Linked DNA regions of Homo sapiens. The protein of the gene in region 2 interacts with the protein of the main gene of each other region in a biochemical or structural test. Each region holds a gene or a part of one and is shown on either strand. Other genes may lie near its edges.

Region 1 (7,384 bases), about 79 Mb from region 2:
TACTCCATCCTTAGTTAGTATCTGTATTACCAAGAATTCAAGAGTCATTTTCAAAGAAAATCCTGAAAAGAAAATGAAAAGTCCCAAAATGTAGCATTATAATCTAGCATTACAGATCTCTGAAATAAAGCTAATAAATCAATTAGCTGAAATAGACTGACTGATTTTCAAACTATATTACCAAGATGTAAAACATACAAACACTCCAGTACCACAAGAGGCTCTTAAGTAGCTATTATAAGATTTGTATCATCATAGCTGAAAATTACCCCGGAATTTTAAAATATTTTTCAAATCACTCCATGAAGTGCTTAGAAAGCACGACCCTTCCCTGAAAGATGCATAATCAGCTTTCCTCTTTACCTACCCGGGCATTCTCTACTTGCAAGCCACAAGAAAAAAAAAAAATTAACTTTCAAAAATTATCTCCCATTCAGCTATTACCTAGACTACCCTGTTTCAGGCTAGTTCCCAAAGCCAACATGAATTGAAATCTTGAGTTCAACTAAAAGTGATCATTTTATGTTGCCTAAGAATATAATCAATTTCACATAACATCATGTTTTGCGTGTGTGTGGGTTCTTAAAATCTCAGTTCTTTAGTTCTCTCAGTTCTTCTAGGCAACAAATTAATTTGTCTTTGCCCTCATGATGCCCCTCTTTCCCACAATAAGGAAACAATATAGATATTTTTGTTAAATTCTGCAAGTATGTTTAAACAAGCTATCATTAAATACCACATGAACTTCTCCATAAATAGAGATACACTGGAACATTAGATACTTAGTATATATTAAACACTTCAAGAGCATACTTTTCAGCACAAACCCAGGACAAGAGTAGTCTATCCACAACCCTGAACACAGCCCAAATATCCCTATTATTTCTAGGACCATAGCCATCTGCAAAAGCCAAAATGGAAAGGACTAAATCCACATTCTTCTAACTAAATCCACAGTTATCTAAATATGATGGAAACTAACGCTAGAGTGTTTTAAATCGTCCTTTTTAAGGAACCCGCCAGAACATTTAACAGGTAATGAATGCAGTAGCACTCCAAAATTGAACTTAAATGTAATGAGCCAGTGACAACATTTAACTTAGTATTTGGCACTATGACAAAACAAATCTCAATCAAAACTTGGACCTATTAATACTTCCAAGTTAACTTTTGATTAAACATAAATTATACGGTGGCAGGTTGGTAATGTCAAAACAGGAAGGTTAAGAGATAACACATCAAACCACTTATCCAATTGAACACAAATGCATACAGAGATGTTACTGCTGCTAGGTATTTATTGGCTCCCACTAGTCCCTTCTAAAGAGAGAAATCAATGGCAGCCTCCAAATGTGAATGGTTACTGAGGAAGTTCATCCACAGATTAAGAACAAATATTATGTGTAGTCATACAAACAAGAAAAAAATGTTGGGAGGGTGGGACATTTAACGTCTCTATTAAGTATATCAAACTATGATAACCCCTGAGACCTAAAATATTCTCTCATTCCAAATTCCAAAAATTCTGCAAATGTGCATAATGGTTTAGTAATCAAATCTTGTCCTTCTCTTTATTCTAAAGGATGGGCAAGTAAACACTGTCATCACTACTTTAACGTGGAAACACTCGAGCACTTGATGAAACTGACTACCAACAGCAAGAAAAGTACAAGAAAGCAGTTTGAAATCGAATCATCCAAATAAATATCATATTATCTCAATTCAAGGTTAATGAGACCGGGGGAGGGGGTATGGGAGGAGTAAAAAGGGAGCTGCTTCATCCTTGACTGAAGATAGGTTTTGCCCTTTTCCATTGCCTGTTTATCAGGAGGTCTAATAATTTCAGATCCTGGTATTTCGAGGTTTCTTATTTTAAGGGCGAGGTGGAAAAGGGGTGTAAAATAAAACCAATACTCACTGCTAACTTTCATGCTGCCAAAAGCTGAAGGCTGCTGCACCGGCTTGCAGCTCTCCGCAAAGGAGGTGGTTCTGGGCCGCCCTGACATGATCACTCTCTTCGCGAATCACCTTTTCCTTCCTTCCTCCTTTTCTTCCTTTTGTCTTTATGTTGGGGTGTTAGGTTAACGATAAATGCAGCATTAAGTTCTCCCACAGAAGAAAAAGAAAAAGACTTCGTCCTCTTGGCTTTTCACTCCTTTTGTATACTATAAAAAACAAAACAAGCGATATATTTCTCCTTCAAGACAGATCGGCACGGATATTTAACATATAGATGATTTAGGACTTGGGAAAAAATACAATTCTTTCCCCTCCCTTTCCTGGGAGGAGAGAAAAGAGAGGGCAAATCCTAAAAAAATATGTATCACGTGAAACGGGGGCAAATACTTGATTGAAAATGAGTACTTCGAATATTATATTTTCCTCGGGGATTTTTTTTCCGAGTCAATGAAGAAGGGAAGCGGCGGAAGGATCACGAGTCTCACGCTTGAAGAGAAAGGGGGATGGGTAGGAGGGAGGGAGAGGGAGGGAGGGGGTGGCTCGGAGATGCGACGGGAAACGCTGCAGCTCCGGCAAGCCGCGGGATCCGGCGGGCTGACGGCAGGGGCCCGGCGAACTAGAGGGCGGCGGAGTCGCGAGTCAGTCAGAGGCGGGCGGTGGCGGTGGCGGCGGCTCCTCTCCTCATTGCGCCAGGAGCAGCTGCAGGCGGCGGCTGGATCCAGCGGCCATGGCGGTGGCGGAGGCAGCTCCCTTCAGACCCCAGGCAGCGGCTCCTCGACTGTTCCCCATTCGCCGGGGACATGGGAACCCGGCAACCGCTTCCGTCCCTCGGGGCCCCCTCCCCCGTCCGCGGCAACAGCTCGGCCGCCCTCCCGCCCCTCGGCTCTGCTCGGTGCCCGCTCAGGAAGTGTCCGCGCTTTGCCCCAGCCCAGAGCCCTGTCAGCGGCTGCGGGGCCGGCTCCTCCTCGCTTCCTTCCTTCCTTTGTCACTTGGCCCGGGCGGCGGCGGCGGCGGCGGCGGCACAAGCCCGCATTCGCCCGGGTCAGGAGCTGCTCTGTGTGAGGAGCGCTGTCTGCGCAGCCGCCTTGCACTTCCCCACTCCTCCTCCCCCCTCCTACTCGTCCTCCACCTCCTTCCTCCCCCACCCAGCCTTACACCGCCCAGCGCCCCGCCGCCCGCGTAACAGGCGTCTGGGAATCGCCGGCCGAGCCCCACGCTCGCCCGCTTCGGCTGGGAGCCGAAGCCCGAACGGAGCCAATCACGGACGTCGTTTGTTTGCGGCTCCTCCCGGAAAAAGCCGATCAGCCTGAGAAACCAATTAGAAAGTGACGCTGGGAAGCCACGCCCAAAGAGCGGAAAATGCCGAAGGTAGCCGAACGGAAAGGGTGAATTCGCCTTGTTCGGTGGCTGGCTGGAGGAGACATTCGACAATGGCAACAGTGGCCAATCAGAGTCGCCGGCCCTTACGAAGAGGCTTGAAGAGTTGAGGACGGTGAAACCCAGAGACGCTGGTGAAACTGCACGGCTGGGCGCCGCCGCCGCTTTGTGATTGGCTGGAAAACTCCGCTGGGAGCGTACCTCCTTCGGTGATTGGTGAAGAGAAGGGGGCTTCCGAGGACAGTCTGGCCAGTCAGGACTTCCCCTCCCTCTCCAAGGTGGGGAGAAGAAAGCGAAGGGAGGGCGTCTATAAAGCGCTGTCTCATTGGCCTGAAGCTTAGGCGCTGGAGTTGGGGCAAAAGGGAGAGGGAGGGAGCCCGAAACTCGCGGCGGCGGCCAATCGGCTCTCACTGCCGTCCAATCGCAAGACCTAGCTGCAGTGTGATTGGCCTTCGGCCCCGGTCCCAGGAGCGGGGAGATGCCTGACTCGGGTCGTGGCTGACGACCCGACGGTTCGCCTGCGGCCGCCTCCAACAACGGTGGAAACCGCACACAGGGACCGCGGGCCCTCGGTGCAGCAAATCGGAAAGTGCTGCGGTCGGCGGCCCTGGGCTCTGAGCGCTCAAGCGAGCAGAGGGGTGGAGGGGCTCTCCCCACCCACAGGAGGCTCTCGGCGGGGCGCAGCCAATTCTGCGCGCCCAAGGCTCCCCTCTGCCGTGGATCGCGTGTGCCGAGTGTTGGCCTCTTCCCCGAAAGGGCCAGACGGACCAAGGGGGCCTTCCCAGCCGGCTGCAAGCTCTCAGACGCTAAAATGGGAACAAAGCTTCCAGAAAGGCAGCGCCTTTGGGCGGCCGCGCCCCGCCCAGCCGCGGGGGCCATTGATACAGAGGCTTGCTGCGCTTGGTGTGCGCGGCCCGGCCGGGCCTCTGGAAACGCCCATGAGAAATGAGCTCATGCTGGATGCGCGCGCTCCTTGGGCGCAACTGCCCAGCGCAAAACGGGCCCCGAAAGCAGGTGAGGGGAAATGCCGTCAGGCCGGATATCCTGAAGCCTCCGAGGAAATGGGGGGGTCAGAGGAGCCCGTGGTAGCTTTGGATCTTTTGGAACTAGGGTGATCTATAAAAGTGCAGCTTGAGAAGATTTCATACATAAGACCAGCGTCCATTGTTCTACCATAGAACCAGTTCCTTTGGTCTGCTTTAGAACAGTGAGGTATGGCTACGTCAAGATAACAGAGAAAGTAGAACAGACAGTTGCCATCCTGATTGTAATCCAGTGGTGCCTGTAATTTCTACCTGCAGAGTCATCTCTTTCTGTTAAGATGCTGTCTCCAGAAAGCACATGTTAAAGGACCTATATTTGATCAGATTACCTGGCTCTTGCTTTGAAACACTGATGAAGGACTTGGGACAGAACAAAGTAAGCTTTGATGGAAGACAGGAAAGGTCTAGATAGTGTTTGCAGATTCAAATGGCTACAGAGGCCAGACAAGTAAAGCAAATGAGTGAGACTGGCCTTGTGTAAGACAATGGGGAATGATAGGGAAAATGGCAAATTGGAATATCCATGCCATAACTAAAAGGAACAGCTGCTCAACTCTAGCAGATTGTTGCCCTCAGGAATGTGGGTCCAGTGTTCTCAGATGTTCAATTTTTTTCCTCCCAAAAGAAACCCCAAAATTGGATTTTTGTGTGAAATCTCTGCATTTTTAAATGTTGGTAACCAAATTTTCAAACCCTGCAGGCCAACCTAAAAACATCCCTTGGCCAATGAGGCATTGGAAAAAGTGTTAATAATTGTTAGGGGCCCGATAGCAGTAGGAGGGTGAAAACAAAATGGTTTGGGACCTTAAATAATTGAAATGTATCTTTATTTATTTATTTATTTTTGAGACGGAGTTTCACTCTTGTTGCCCAGGCTGGAGTGCAGTGGCGCGATCTCGGCTCACCGCAACCTCCGCCTCCCCGATTCAAGTGATTCTCCTGCCTCAGCCTCCCAAGTAGTTGGGATCACAGGCATGTGCCACCATGCCAGCTACTTTTGTATTTTTAGTAGAGACGGGGTTTCTTCATGTTGGTCAGGCTGGTCTCGAACTCCCGACCTCAGGTGATCTGCCTGCCTCAGCCTCACAGAGTGTCAGGATTACAGGCGTAAGCCACCACACCGGGCCGGTTGAAATTTATCTTTAAAATAGTGCACCTTTAATCCTTTTTTTATTTCTGTGTGTATCTTATAATGTGCATATCATGTTAGCTCAAGATCAAGAGTTTATGGACAAGCCAGGAGTGGTGGCTTATGACTGTAATCCCAGCAATTTGGGAGGCCGAGGCAGGTGGATCGCCTGAGGTTAGGAGTTCAAGACTAGCCTGGTCATCATGGTGAAACCCCGTCTCTACTAAAACTTTAAAACTTAGCTGGGCGTGGTGGCGGGCGTCTATAATACCAGTTACTTGGGAGGCTGAGGCAGGATAATTGCTTGAACCCAGGAGGTGGAGGTTGCAGTGAGCTGAGATCGCACCATTGCACTCCAGCCAAGGCAACAAGAGCAAAACTCCGTCTCAAAAAAAAAAAAAAAAAAAAAGTTTATGAACCACTAGTTTAGACAAAGAATAGTTGTACAGTTGTACAGATGGATAAGGAAGGAAAGAACATTCCAGGCAAAGAGAAAAGGTTATGCAATGGCTGAAATGTTTAACAAGGTATTTGGAGACCTTGAGATAGTTTGAAATTATGTAATGTCTAAGATGTGGGCCAAGAGAAAATAAAGGAAAATATCACAGGATAATAGAGGAGTAAAGTAAACTATGCTGTATTAACTCCATATTAGGCAGCCAGTAAAAATAAATACAACCACCAAAAGTAACTCAGAAATATGTTTAGGAAACAATACTAATTGAAAAATATAGAACTTCAGGTTGTATATCTACCATATTTCCAATCTGTAAAATATAAGTACATTTGGATCAAGATTGGAAAGGAAGACAAATTAGAATAACTCGTCAATAACATATTTAAATATAAATGAAAATATTTAAATGTCTTTGCTTAGTATTTTTATAATAAATTTCTATTTTTTTACTTTTATTTATCTTTTAATCTCACTGTTATCCAGGATGGAGTGCAGTAGCACAGTCATAGCTCACTATGGCCTTGAACTTCTGGGCTCAAGCAGTCCTCCCACCTCAGCCTCCTAAGTAGCTGGGATTACAGGTGTAAGCCACTGTACCCCACCTCTGTGTTTGATTTTAAGGGGAATTGGCCCAAAAAATAACATTTATATTATTTCTTCACTATGATTCACATGTCCCTCAGAAGCCTCTAATTACAATGGAATTCTTAAAAAAAATTCACATTTCTCAGCAAAGCTTTCCAACGAAAATTTTTATGATAATCCTTTGTCATATAAGTTAAAATAGTAAAACTAGACAATAGTGAGTAAGTATTATATTTGAGACACCTGCTAGGCATCTGATATAAGGTGGATGAGAGGATCAGTGTCCTTTGGGAGTTTACCCTCTAGGGAAGCAACTACATGAAAAGTTAAATAAATTATAAAAATCACATTTTGAATTGATAAAAGTTATGAGACAGAACATAATTTGGTTTTTATTTATTTTTTTGAGACAGGGTCTCACTTTGTCCTCCAGGCTGGAGTGCTGCGGCCTCAACCTCCCAGGTTCAAGGGATCCTGCTGCCTCAGCCCCCCAAGTAGCTAGGACTACAAGGGTGCACCACCACACCCAGCTAATTTTTGTATTTTTTGTATAAATGGGGTTTCGCCATGTTGCCCAGACTGGTCTCAAACTCCTGGGCTCAAAATCTGCGTGCCATGGCTTCTCAAAACGCTAGGATTACTGGCGTGAGTCACCATGCCTGGCCTATAATTTGTTAATATGGTTGTTACTACAAAGTTTAAAATAAATTGCCCATGCATTCCTATTTATAATAGGTGAGTGGAGGACACTTCAATCTAAAGTGATCTTAAAGGAGGAGTAGTAGGATTTGAAGATGAAGAAAGAAGAGGGGAGGTAAATTACTTTCCATCACT
Region 2 (7,023 bases):
GTGTTACCCAATGTATACTATGTGCCTATTCCATTTCTTAAAATACATTAGATGCTATTTTCAGAATAAACAAATGAACATAAGAATAACCTGGAAGAACTTAAAGATTCCTAAGCTTCCAGTCCCATACATGTCCAGCTATCTACAGACCTCCCTGTCACTTCAAATAAAACACTATGAGATCTTGATATAAAAATTAACACTCCAGGGATTCTGATTAAATAAATCTCAAAATCTGTATTTTTAGCCTACATTACAGGTTACTGCTGGAACAGCTGACAGAATTTACATCCCATCCCCTCATTCTATATGAACTCAGCCACATTTGTCTATCCCCAAGACTATGGTTCCTCTGCCAGTAGTTACCTGGAGCAATCATAATGTCTTTCTCTCTCATAAATTCCCAAGTAAAATTACTCTCAATAAGTGAGAAAAGTAAGTGTTGCCAGCCCTATACTTTATTCCCAACATTTTCTTCCATTAAATGCCTTTATATTTTTCCTTCTTTCAATACTGATTTGAAGCTTGCTTTGAAATTCTGAGTAAATGTTGTTAGGTGGGTTACTGAAAGGAGAAAAAATGCTTGGTAGCTAAAAAGTAACTGTTTTCATGACACACACACACACACACACACACACACACAGAACCCAAGAGGCCCTAGTACAAACCATCTATTCTTTTCCCCAATTGCCAACATACACAATATACAAAGTACCACATATAAGTTGCCTTCTTAAAAATACTCAGAATAGAAAAAAATTGTTTCTCATACTTAGACGACATCTATTCACTGAGAATACAGAATATCAGGGCAAAACACTGCTCATAATCAGGCAAGAGAAAGAAAATGCATCCAAATAGGAAGTCTGTTTGCAAACAATATGATTCTATACCTAGAAAACCCCATAATCTCTGCCCAAAAGCTCCTTGATCCAATAAACTTCAGCAAAGTTTCAGGATATAAAAATCAATGTACAAAAGTCAGAAGCATTTCTAGACACCAACAACATCCAAGCTGCAAGCCAAATCAAGAATGCAATCCCATTTACCAAAGCCACAAAAAGAATAAAATACCTAGGAATACAACTAACCAGGGAGGTGAAAGATCTCTACAATGAGAATTACAAAAAACACTGCTCAAAGAAATCAGAGATGACACCAACAAATGAAAAAACATTCTATTTCATGGCAGGAAGAATCAATATTGTTAAAATGGCCATACAGCCCAAAGCAATTCACAGATTCAATGCTATTCCTACCAAACTACCAATGGCATTCTTCACATAATTAAAAAAAAACTATTTAAAAATTCATATGAACCCAAAAAAGAGCCTGAATAGCCAAGGCAATCCTAAGCAAAAAGAACAAAACTGGAGGAATCACTTTACCCAACTTCAAGCTATACTGTTAATACAAGGTTACAATCACAGCATGGTACTGGTATACAAACAGACACAGAGACCAATGGAACAGAAAAGAAAGCCCAGAAGTTAGGCCGCACACCTAACAAGTAAACAAAAACAAGCAATGGGGAAAGGACTCCCTATTCAATAAATGGTGCTGGGATAACTGGCTAGCCACATCCAAGATTGAAACTGCACCCCATCCTTACATGATGTACAAAAATCAACTCAGAATGGATTAAAGACTTAAATATAAAACTTAAAACTGTAAAAACTCTGCAAGATAACCTAGGAAATACCATTCTGGACATAAGACCTGGCAAAGATTTCATGACGAAGATGCCAAGAGAAGTTGCAACAAAAACAAAAACTGACAAATGGGACAGTATAAAGAGCTTCTGCGCAGCAAAAGAAATCAACAGAGTAAACAGACAACCTACAGAATGGGAGAAAGTACTGGCATGGGAGAAAGTACTGGCAAACTATGCATCTGACAAAGGTCTAATATCCAGAGTTTACAATAAACTTAAATTAACAAGCAAAAAAGAACAACCCCATTAAAAAGTGGGCAAAGGACATGAACAGACACTTTTCAAAAGAAGACATACAAGTGGCCAAGAAACATATGAAGAAAAGCTCGACATCACTGATCATTAGAGAAATGCAAATCAAAACCACAATGAGATACCGTCTCACACCAGTTAGAATGGCTACTAATAAAAAGTCAAAAAATGACAGATGCTGGTGAGGTTGCTGAGAAAAGAGAATGCTTATACACTGCTGGTGGGAAAGTAAATTAGTTCAGCCATTGTGGAAAGCAATTTGGTGATTTCTCAAAAAACCTGACAGAATTACCATTCAATCCAGCAATCCTATTATTAGGTATATGCCCAAAGAAAAAGAAATCTTTTTACCATAAAGACACATGCATGCATATGTTCACTGCAGCATTATTCACAATAGCAAAGATATGGAATTAACCTAAATGCCCATCAATGGTAGACTAGATAAAGAAAATGTGGTACATATATACTATGGAATACTAAGCAGCCATAAAAAAATACCAAGATGTCTTCCTCAGCAACATGGATGGAGCTGGAGGCCATTATCCTAAGCAAACTAACATAGGAATAGAAAACCAAATACCACATGTTCTCACTTATAAGTGGGAGGTAAACACTGAGTACACACGGGCACAAAGAAGGGAACAACAGACACTGGGGCCTACTTACGGGTGGGAGGTAAAGAACTGAAAAACTACCTATTGGGTACAATACTTACTGCCTGGGTGACAAAATAATCTGCACACGAAACCCCTGTGACATGCAATTTACCTATATAACAAGCCTGCACATTACCCGGAACCTAAAAGTTAAAACAAAACAAAAACTGCTCATGAGCATCTACTAATAAAGCAATCACTTTACATAAAACTGTACTATATTAGAATTTGTCTTTTCTCCTATAAATTCACAGCTCTGTTAGCAAATCTTAGGTTTACTCAAAACTGAAATTACAAACAAATTTTATTAAGCAAAACATATGCCATCATTTTTGATGGATAATAAGAACTCTACCTAAACTAGCCTTAAATATTTAGCTACAATCCAGATGACAGGTACTCTGAATGTAAATCTTGGCTGCAAACTGAATAGGACCATTTATTTTCAGTAGTTAAAGTTCTACCACCTTTTCCTAAGAAAAGTAATCTAATTAGAACTGCAGATGCTATACACAAGACTCAGAATAGATACATATACTTACCAGCTTCTACAATAGCCGGCTTATTACTAGAGCAGACAGATAGCACCTTCAGCACTCTGCTTGTGGTCCACAGTAGTTTTTCGTAAGTATAGGTCCTCATTATATTTACTAAAGCTTGGGGTCCACCACTAGCCAGTATGATGAGCTAGAAAGATATATATATATATCTTGTTAGTCAAGGAATCTTGATCACATGTCTGAGAAGAGCCATATTACCAACCTATTTTATTATACAAGAATTTCAGCCAGCTTGCCATTGGACCTAAATGTATTCCTGGACCCCATCACTCAGACCCCCATACTGGGGCCCTATCCAACTTGTCCTTTTAAAGCATTCCACTCAAATTCAGACATCCCAGTCCTCCAAACAATGTATCAGTTTGGGCCCAATTTCCTTCTTCCCACAGTGATCACACCAAAAGAAAAAAATTTAGAAACTATGTTGGTAGGCAAGAGTAATGCCCTAAGATGAAAGTTATATCAAAACTGATTCACTGAAAATTTGAACCAGAACTGGCACTTAACTCCTCATCATTTGGCCCTTTAATTTTCCTAATTATATCCACCTTAAAAACAGATACCATAAAATGATCATTCATGCTTGTCCTTTCATTCCCTGTATATCTTCCCTTTCAACACTGCCCCAATTTTCTAAAAACAAATTTCATCATTTCAGGCTTCTGCTGAAATTTCCCATTGTGCTTTTAAACATGCTCTACAAAGCCCTATGAGATCTGCTAAGTCTATCTCAATAGCCTCACCTCAAACCTTTCTTCCTCCTTACTATTAGTATTTCTTAAATTCCCAAAACTTTCCATCTCCTTCCTTCGTTTCAAAGATGTTGTTTTCTCACCTAACCTTCACCTAGTGAATCCCTTCTCATCCTTGAACACTGAACTCAACTATCACTTCCTCCAAGAGGTCTCCTTGAACCCTCAAAAAGAGTCAGTTTCAACTTGTGTTATGTGCCCTCATAGCCCCACTTCTTCCCACTACACAAATTAAATATTAGGTTATTATTCCCAACATCTACATCCCACCTAAGAACAAAAGTGTGAAGAGAAGCTTGCCTACCATATCCCTACTACTTCGCATAGTGCTTTACATATGGAAACTCAAAAATTTAAAAGAACAGAAATGAACTGGGCTGCACAGCAGGAGGTAAGTGGCAGGTGAGCGAGCATTACCTGGCTTGAGCTCTACCTCCTGTCAGATCAACTGCACCATGAGAGTCTCATAGGAGTAGAAACCCTAGTGTGGACTGCACATGCGAGGGATCTAGGCTGCACGCTCCCTATGAGAATCTAATGCCTGATTATCTGAGGTGGAATGGTGTCATCCAGAAACCATTCCCACAACCCATTCATGGAAAAACTGTTTTCCACGAAACTGGTCCCTGGTGCCAAAAAGGTTAGGAACACTGCATGGAATGACATGACACTGGAGGTGTCCAATGCTCCATGAAAACCACATAAAGAATAATTCTCTTACCTTGCTTTCTTGGTTGCCATAAGCTAAAATTTGAAGGCAGTCTGTCGTAATAGCCAAGAATTTAACATTTGTTTTGTTGAGCAAGGCAACCATTTTCTGCAGCCCACCAGCTAAACGCACTGCCATTTTAGCTCCTTCTTGATGTAATAAAAGGTTGTGGAGAGTTGTAATGGCATAAAACAACACAGAATCCACTGGTGAACTGGGAAGAAGAAAAAAGCCTCATCAGAAATATTGTGAGTATACTCTTCTACTTTTTAGCTTCAAGCATTCTGACATGTTTTCTTACCCAAGCATTTTCACCAGGGCAGGAATGCCTCCAGACTTAAAGATGGCCAGTAAGCCCTCACGATGATGGGAAAGGTTATGCAAGGTCCCAGCGGTACAACGAGCTGTTTCTACATCATTTGTATTCTGCATGGTACGTACAATAGCAGACACCATCTGAGGAGAACGCATGATAGCGTGTCTGGAAGCTTCCTTTTTAGAAAGCTGATGGACCATAACTGCAGCCTTATTAACCACCACCTGTAATACAGGAATTCAGAAACATCGTTAGTTTTCAAGTACTGGTATTGGGTAGACATTCTGAAACTACTCCCCTTGAGCATTTACTTCAAAGCAGACTAAAAAGCTAGCTATGTCATTGCTTACCTGGTCCTCGTCATTTAGCAGTTTTGTCAGTTCAGGGATTGCACGTGTGGCAAGTTCTGCATCATCTTGATAGTTAATCAAGTTTACAACTGCATGTTTCAGCATCTGTGATGGTTCAGCCAAACGCTGGACATTAGTGGGATGAGCAGCATCAAACTGTGTAGATGGGATCTGCATGCCCTCATCTAATGTCTCAGGGAACATAGCAGCTCGTACCCTCTGAGCTCGAGTCATTGCATACTGTCCATCAATATCTGGAAAAGGTTAATTCAACACTCACTATCCACAGTTCAGCATTTACCTAAGTATTTGCTATCCTAAATGGTAAAAGTGACATTGCTATTACTCTCTTTTCTTCACCACAACATTTTATTTAAACTATTATACACTAACTTTTTAGTTCTCAAAACTGCATTCTGACTTTCAGTAAGGCAATGAAAAATAATACTCTTACCAGCTACTTGTTCTTGAGTGAAGGACTGAGAAAATCCCTGTTCCCACTCATACAGGACTTGGGAGGTATCCACATCCTCTTCCTCAGGATTGCCTTTACCACTCAGAGAAGGAGCTGTGGTAGTGGCACCAGAATGGATTCCAGAGTCCAGGTAAGACTGTTGCTGCCAGTGACTAACAGCCGCTTTTCTGTCTGGTTCCATGGCCATGTCCAACTCCATCAAATCAGCTATAAATACGAAACAGTATTAGCATTAGTAGATTGGAAATGTTACTTTAATTTAAAAAAAAAGAATCTGTGATATGACCCATTGAAATATTTTTAGAAATAAAGTCAAATCTGAAAGACAGCCAAGAAAAGCAGAATGATAGCCAGGGTTAGCTCAGTGATGAAATACCTAATCCCTTAGGGAACCACCTAACAGTTACTCACTGAATCAGTGGAAGAATGGTACTGCATCCAGGCTCCAGAAGCAGTCATCCAGACTAGATTCCTGCTGGTGGCTTGTTTGCTATTTCACCAAGCCATTAGGAGGAGTGAGCAGAAAATGGAGCAAAAGGTAGCCTGACAAGTAAGCAGGGAGAGAGGAAAGCAGGGGGATCTCAGCCAGACTGGCTTAATGGCAACGAAGCAGAGCCCCAATTCAGTAACTAAAGATTTAATGACACAAACCTTGAGTAGCCATTGTCCACGCTGGATTTTCAAAACAGTTGTATGGTATACTTCAAATACCCTAAAAAAAGTTAATCAAAAGTCATTAGGATTTAAATTTAGCTTGATTAATACTCCTAAGTCACTGGGATACCTGTTAAATGTCACTATTACACCCACAAAAAAAACCCATATCCTCTTTTACCAGGTTAGTGAAACGCAGACCTCATGGTCTCCTCCAGACACCTCAACCACAGCTCCATCACTGCTGAACTTCAGTGAAAACTCCTCCTTACCAAAAATGTCTTTTTATTAATAGTATAAATATTAATTATAGATATTCAGGATGGTGATGAAAAAGCACAGAGTTGTAATAATAAAAGCCAGGGAGGGGAAAACACTATTCAAAAATCAGCTGCTCTCTGAATTCCTAAAGGTCTCTCCTTTTTTAACCTTTCACAGAAAAATTCACAGATCCCCTTTGGATAACAGAGGTACAGTGGGATTTTAAAAACTCCACATTTTCTTTAACAAGTTGTTTTCTGATATAGTGCCATCAAAAATTATTTTTCATAAAGCAAATTTTGGTGACTAGAATAGCGAATT

What was found.
Region 1: of the proteins of CTNNB1 (region 2) and GSK3B, one has a biochemical effect on the other in vitro, tested with the Homo sapiens proteins (11 studies listed by BioGRID and IntAct).

What each region holds. Positions count from the first base shown.
Region 1 is NC_000003.12:120,091,429-120,098,812, forward strand, and holds the start of GSK3B (glycogen synthase kinase-3 beta), read right to left. Parts: upstream 3,020-7,384; 5' UTR 2,007-3,019; coding exon 1,919-2,006; intron 1-1,918. UniProt on the Homo sapiens protein: Constitutively active protein kinase that acts as a negative regulator in the hormonal control of glucose homeostasis, Wnt signaling and regulation of transcription factors and microtubules, by phosphorylating and inactivating glycogen synthase (GYS1 or GYS2), EIF2B, CTNNB1/beta-catenin, APC, AXIN1, DPYSL2/CRMP2, JUN, NFATC1/NFATC, MAPT/TAU and MACF1.
Region 2 is NC_000003.12:41,223,497-41,230,519, reverse strand, and holds part of CTNNB1 (catenin beta-1), read right to left. Parts: intron 6,500-7,023; 5' UTR 6,452-6,499; coding exon 6,439-6,451; intron 6,331-6,438; exon of another isoform or gene 6,199-6,330; intron 5,995-6,198; coding exon 5,767-5,994; intron 5,567-5,766; coding exon 5,313-5,566; intron 5,187-5,312; coding exon 4,948-5,186; intron 4,861-4,947; coding exon 4,659-4,860; intron 3,313-4,658; coding exon 3,168-3,312; intron 1-3,167. UniProt on the Homo sapiens protein: Key downstream component of the canonical Wnt signaling pathway.